Linked DNA regions of Homo sapiens: region 1 is linked to region 2. Evidence: fine-mapped expression QTL. A gene starts in region 2. The other region holds a variant in brackets. All regions are shown on one strand. Distances are from middle to middle.

Evidence for each region. PIP is the estimated chance that this variant, and not a neighbour inherited with it, causes the effect.
Region 1: its variant is fine-mapped to the expression of FAM20A in whole blood (INTERVAL, PIP 0.95).

Annotation. Positions count from the first base shown.
Region 1 is chr17:68,577,159-68,580,064 of GRCh38, reverse strand. The region is part of intron 1 of FAM20A (FAM20A golgi associated secretory pathway pseudokinase); the gene reads left to right. Among named protein-coding and RNA genes, the nearest start is that of FAM20A, 23 kb to the left of the region's middle. The variant T/G (reference allele first, on the strand shown) is at 1,524.
Region 2 is chr17:68,599,865-68,602,770 of GRCh38, reverse strand. It overlaps FAM20A (FAM20A golgi associated secretory pathway pseudokinase), which reads left to right and starts at 1,404. Exons shown (of 11, transcript NM_017565.4): 1 at 1,404-2,508. The coding sequence starts at 2,105.

The sequences.
Region 1 (2,906 bases), 23 kb after region 2:
AGACAATAAATGGAAATAACCTAAAATGCCTTTATAATGAGATTTATGCAAATGCAAACTATTAATAGTATTAAATCAAAAGACACATCCTATGTTCAATAAGTACCAAGAGGCTGTGGCAGAGGCATTTTCTGCTCACCAAAGTCCACTTGTTCTCCCGTGTGTTCCAGCCCCCAGCAGTTAGTTGGGGTCATGTGACTAGTCCTGGACAATGGGTTATCAGTTGATGTGATCTGCGTCGCTTCCCAAAGCATTGAAGAGCCAGCACTTCATCTTCCAGTTCCTCTCTTTTCTTGCCCTGATGACTGTGAAGACCATTTGTTGGGATCTTGGTGTGTTCATCAAGCTGGGTCCCTGAGTCAGTGTGTGGAGCAGAATCCCTACTGACCTTCACGAGACAAGTAGCATGAGTGAGAAATAAGCTCTTGTTTTGAAAAGCCACTCCGATTTCAGGATTAAGCTGTTGCTCTAACAGAACCTACCCTACTCTCACTCAATAGGTAAATGAATTCAGATGGATTTTGCTCTACAAACTCAAAAATCAAAGTAACATAGCATTGGTTTATTTTTCAAAAGTCCAATCACTTTGGACTCTAGGCCCTCTTTTCTGTTTGGTTGGCTAGAAATTTAGTCTGAGTCATCACTGGAGCTCCTTACCCCAAGCCCCTCATGTTGGGTCAATGTCCTTAGGGTGTCTGGGAGCACATTTGAGGAGGACCCATAGTCCATGTTCCATCACCTGGTCTCGTGCAGGTGGGTGGCACTGTTGGTTCTGCATCAAGTTCAAGCACAGGATTATTGGCTGAGACTCGGTTTCTGGTGCCTAAAATGAGTCTTTCTCTGCACACACCTAACCGTTCCCCAGCACATTGGATCACCTCCAAGAAACAGGCCAGACACAGACCCCAGTCAACTCTCCTTTCCTAACCTTGGAGTCTCTTCATGCTTCCCCAAAATTCTGTGCTTCTTTATGCACTTTCACATTCTCTGTTAAATCCCCCTGCCTAGCAAATGCCTTCACTGAGCCTAGACATGTTTTTTTTTTTTTTTTGAAACAGAGTCTCGCTCTGTCACCAGGCTGGAGTGCAGTGGCGCGATCTCTGCTCATTGCAACCTCTGCCTCCCGGGTTCAAACAATTCTTCTACCTCAGCCTCCTGAATAGCTGGGACTACAGGCACCTGCCACCACGCCCAGTAATTTTTTTTTTTTTTTTTTTTTTTTTTTTGGTATTTTTAGTAGAGACAGGGTTTCACCATGTTCACCAGGATGGTCTCGATCTCTTGACCTTGTGATCCGCCTGCCTCGGCCTCCCAAAGTGCTGGGATTACAGGCATGAGCCACTGCACCTGGCCGAGCCTAGACATTTTTAAAAATCCAAGGAAGGAGTGAGAGAAGCCTGGCTACCTGTCTAAACTTCCCCTTGGTCCTGGATCCTAAAAACACTCTGAGGCAAGGAACACAAAGGCCCAGCTATCTTCTGAGAACAGGGGTGGGTAAAATTCCGGAAGAACAAAAAACACAT[T/G]AATATCTCAATAAATTATCCTACCACATGGGTGACTGGTCATGCTGAGGAGGAAAGGAGGCCAACATTTGCTATCATTCTCTTGGTTTGCAAATCAGGTGGAAAAATAATACCACGCAAATTAGCACTAGCTCACAGGCCAAGGACTTGAAAGAATTTAATCTGAGTGAGCCACAAGGAAATTTGCTTATGAACCATGAAAATATGTGCCCCAGCCTAACCCCGTATTGTACCCACCTACATGCAGATTCCCCAACATTCAAATCCATCTCTCTTTCAAATGCCCATGCCTGTATGATAGGCAGTAAGGCAGAATTCAGACACTTTTGAAAATAAATATATTCTGGTAAACCTTTGATTATTAGAGGACCCAGGGGGTGGATTTTTAAAGCTCCTGCTTTGTCTTGGTTCTCTCAGAGTATTGCCTTTACACCACGTTTCTTCTTTTTGCATTCAGGAAAATGGTAGAGGAAAGAGAGGACACCTGTCTATCCAATGTCACTTGCTAATAGTGTGCGTGTGTGTGTGTGTGTGTGGTGTGTGAAATATATATTTATTTATTTTAGGATTACACAGTTGGAAGATTGAAAAGCACCACAATGATGACATTTAAATAAATCAATATTGCATCTTTTGCAACTAACACGTGTGTTAGTGTTTTATCAATATGCTTGTTAGGTTGGTAGAAGTCTGACAACTAAATGCTTGCTGACTCAAATTGGTTTTCTTTTTTTAAACAATTAAGTAACATTTTTAATTTTTGGCTGTGCAGAAGCTATAGAAGGAGTGGAGAGGCTCTGAGGAAGGCTTTTACGCGTCTATGGAAAATATTAAATTACACCGAGTGCAAAATCCATCAGAGCAATTTTCAGGCCATCATCAGAGGATTAAGTGCTTTATTTGCTCATTATTCTATGGCTCTAGCCCAGGATTTCTAACTCAGCATTACTGACATTTGGGGCCAGATCATTTTCTCTTGTGCAGAGCTGTCCTTTGCATTGGAGAATGTTTACAACAGCCCTCAGCACTCTCCCCACCAACTATGACAACCAAATATGTCTCCAAACATTGCCAAATGTCCCCTGAGGGGTAAAATCGCCCCCAGTGGCGAACCACTGGTCTACAGCAGGGAGGCAACAGTTCTGCAGAAAGGGAGATTCTGCAGCTGCAAGGCCCCTGTGCTGCGTGAATCATCACATCACAATTAGGTTGAGGAGCTCCGCAGTCCAGCTTTAATATTTCATGTTTCCCAAAATGTGTCATGTACCATGCAGAATAGAGGGGAATTGGTGTGTGCTACGTAAGGAAATGGTTTAAGAGATGTCCTCTGAGCAGGAGCCGTCATGGCAGGACTTCTGCAAGCCTTGACTGTCTTTCTGCACA
Region 2 (2,906 bases):
AACACATATTTCACACTTATTTAGGATGAGTTAGGAGCTCTTCTAAGTAATTTATACATAGTCAAGTGCCACATAACATTTTAGTCAATGCAACAGTGGTCCCATAAGATTACAATACTGTATTTTTACTGTATGTTTCCTATGTTTAGACACACAAGTACTCACCACTGTGTTACAACTCCCTACAGCATTCAGTAGTCGCATGCTGTACAGGTTTGTACCTAGGATCAACAGGCTATGCCATGTAGCCTCCGTGTGTAGTAGGCTGAACCATCTAGGTTTGTGTAAGTACACCCTGATGTTCACACACACAGGAAAATTGCCTAAGGATGCATTTCTCAGACGTGACACATAATTGTACTTCAATTCATTTAAGTCTCATAATAACCTTAGGAGGTAGGTTCCATCATTATCTTCATTTACATTTGAGGAGACTGCAAAGTCCCGAAGAAATCTTACACTGAACCACGGGGAAAAGAACTCTGGTCTGAACCCACAAGTCAAAGTATGTCTGAGGGTTCTCAATTCCAGCAAGGGAAGGGAGGGGGTTAAAGAGTAGAACTAACTTACATGGGAAGCTTTGCTGCCTGGGCAAGCAGCTTCTGGTGGATTTCCTGAAATTCAGCAGGGTGGGGCCGCCTCTCCAATCAGACTTCACTTTACTATACTATGGGGTCATTAAATAGAGGAGCCAGGAGTTCAGGACTCCCTCCCTCTTCTTCAAAAGGAAAACTGGGTGTGGGGAGGGTACATTACCTCACAGAATATTGGAGAAAGCCTAAATGTGTCCTCCAGTGATTCATTTGGGTGGACTACTTTCACACCAAGCTAAACTCAAAAGTTCGGAGTGGGGTCATCAGGGCCCCTCCCTCCCTGAGTGCAAGAAACATTTCCTCTTTTTAAAGTACAGGCAGAGTTGGAATCAAACTCCTTCCAAACAGGAAATCAGCAAGATTCTAGGTAAAACTGATACCTTACTTTTAAAGGTCAAGCTCTTTCCTTCACCAAGAGCGTGTTTCCTGAGCACCTACTATGTGCCAGGCATGTGGTAGGTAGTTGTTATGAATCTTGATGTGCCCTGCGCTCTGCAGGGGGGCGGAGGTGGAAGGGAACACAAAGAAAGAACAGATACCAACACTGCCACCCCCGCCTCCCCCCACCCCCCCCCACACACTCATTTGGCAAAGCTTACAGGAAAAAAAGGGTTTTAGGGGGCTTGTGGTGGTTTTTTTTTCCCTAAAAATAATAGAAATGGTAAAAAGAGGCTTCGGACCCCTCGCGTGAGTCCCTTAAAGTGACTGGATTGAGACCTGGGCAGGGAAAGTGGGAGGCCCGAGCGAGGGGGAGGGCGCAGGCAGTGGGTGGGTGACAAGGTGCAAGGGCAGCGCCGGCTTCGGATCGGGAGTTGGCCGTCAGCTGCGCCAGAGGCAGGTGCCAGCGGAGAGTGGGTGGGGGTGCCGGCGCCAGGCCAGGCTCGGGGAGGCCCCGCGCTACCTCTGCCTCTAGGAGTCCAGGCGCACAGACAAGCTCCCCGGAGCCGCTCCTGCTTCGCCAACTCCCCACTCGCGCCGCCCGTGCCAGCCGCCGGCACTGGCGTCTCCGCCGCCCGCAGGAGGAGTCGCGGGAGCACTAGCAGCCGCCGCCGAGCGACAGCATCCTCAGGAGAGACGCCCCGGGCTTTGCAGCCGGCGGCCTCCGTCCGCCCTCCGCGGTCGCCCCCCGCCCCGTCGCCCGTCCGCCCGCGGTGGCAGCCGGCGCCGGCGCCCCGGGGCCCTTCACCTGCCGCGAGCGTCCGGGCGGGCGGGCGCACGGGAGAAAAGGCGCAAGAAGCGGGCACCCCGGGAACCCCATTCCCTCGGCTCACTCGGCGCGGAGAAGCGACGCCCGCTGACTCCGAGAGCCCCGGTGCTCCGTGCACCTGGTCCCCAAGTTGAGGAGCGACACCCCTCCACAGGGGACTAGCCCGCGCGGGGAGCATTCCGGTCTCACTGACCCCGGCCCACCCGCGGGACTCCAGGCACCTCTTCTGCCCGCACCCCGCGACCCCTCCCGGGACCCCGGAGACAGCCGGCCTGCCCCCGGCGTCCCCCTTGGCCAGCACGCCATGCCGGGGCTGCGCCGGGACCGCCTACTGACTCTGCTGCTGCTGGGCGCGCTGCTCTCCGCCGACCTCTACTTCCACCTCTGGCCCCAAGTACAGCGCCAGCTGCGGCCTCGGGAGCGCCCGCGGGGGTGCCCGTGCACCGGCCGCGCCTCCTCCCTGGCGCGGGACTCGGCCGCAGCTGCCTCGGACCCCGGCACGATCGTGCACAACTTTTCCCGAACCGAGCCCCGGACTGAACCGGCTGGCGGCAGCCACAGCGGGTCGAGCTCCAAGTTGCAGGCCCTCTTCGCCCACCCGCTGTACAACGTCCCGGAGGAGCCGCCTCTCCTGGGAGCCGAGGACTCGCTCCTGGCCAGCCAGGAGGCGCTGCGGTATTACCGGAGGAAGGTGGCCCGCTGGAACAGGTGAGGACCCCGCCCGGGACGCGGGAGAGCGGGCGCTCTGGCCGGGGCCTCCCCGCGCCCCAGTCTCGAGTTTCCTGACGCCCCCGGCCCAGGGCTGCAGCGGCTCCACCCACGGCTCCAGCCCTGGCGCTGGGCTTAGAGTGTGTTCCCCACCCGAACCCCACCAGCTGTTGCAGACCTCACAGTCCAGTCCCGGAGTCAGATAGTACGAGGAAAAAGTTTCTATTGCAGCCGCACAGCGAAGAAACGCTCTCAGCCCCTTCCCCTTGAGCGCCTGGGTCGTCGTTGAGCCCCACTCCTGCTCCCTCGTCCACTCCCGCTCCCTCGTCCGCTCCCAAACCCCACTCTCTGTCCTGATGTGGAGGAAAGCTGCCGCTGGACTTCGGGTTTCCAGAATG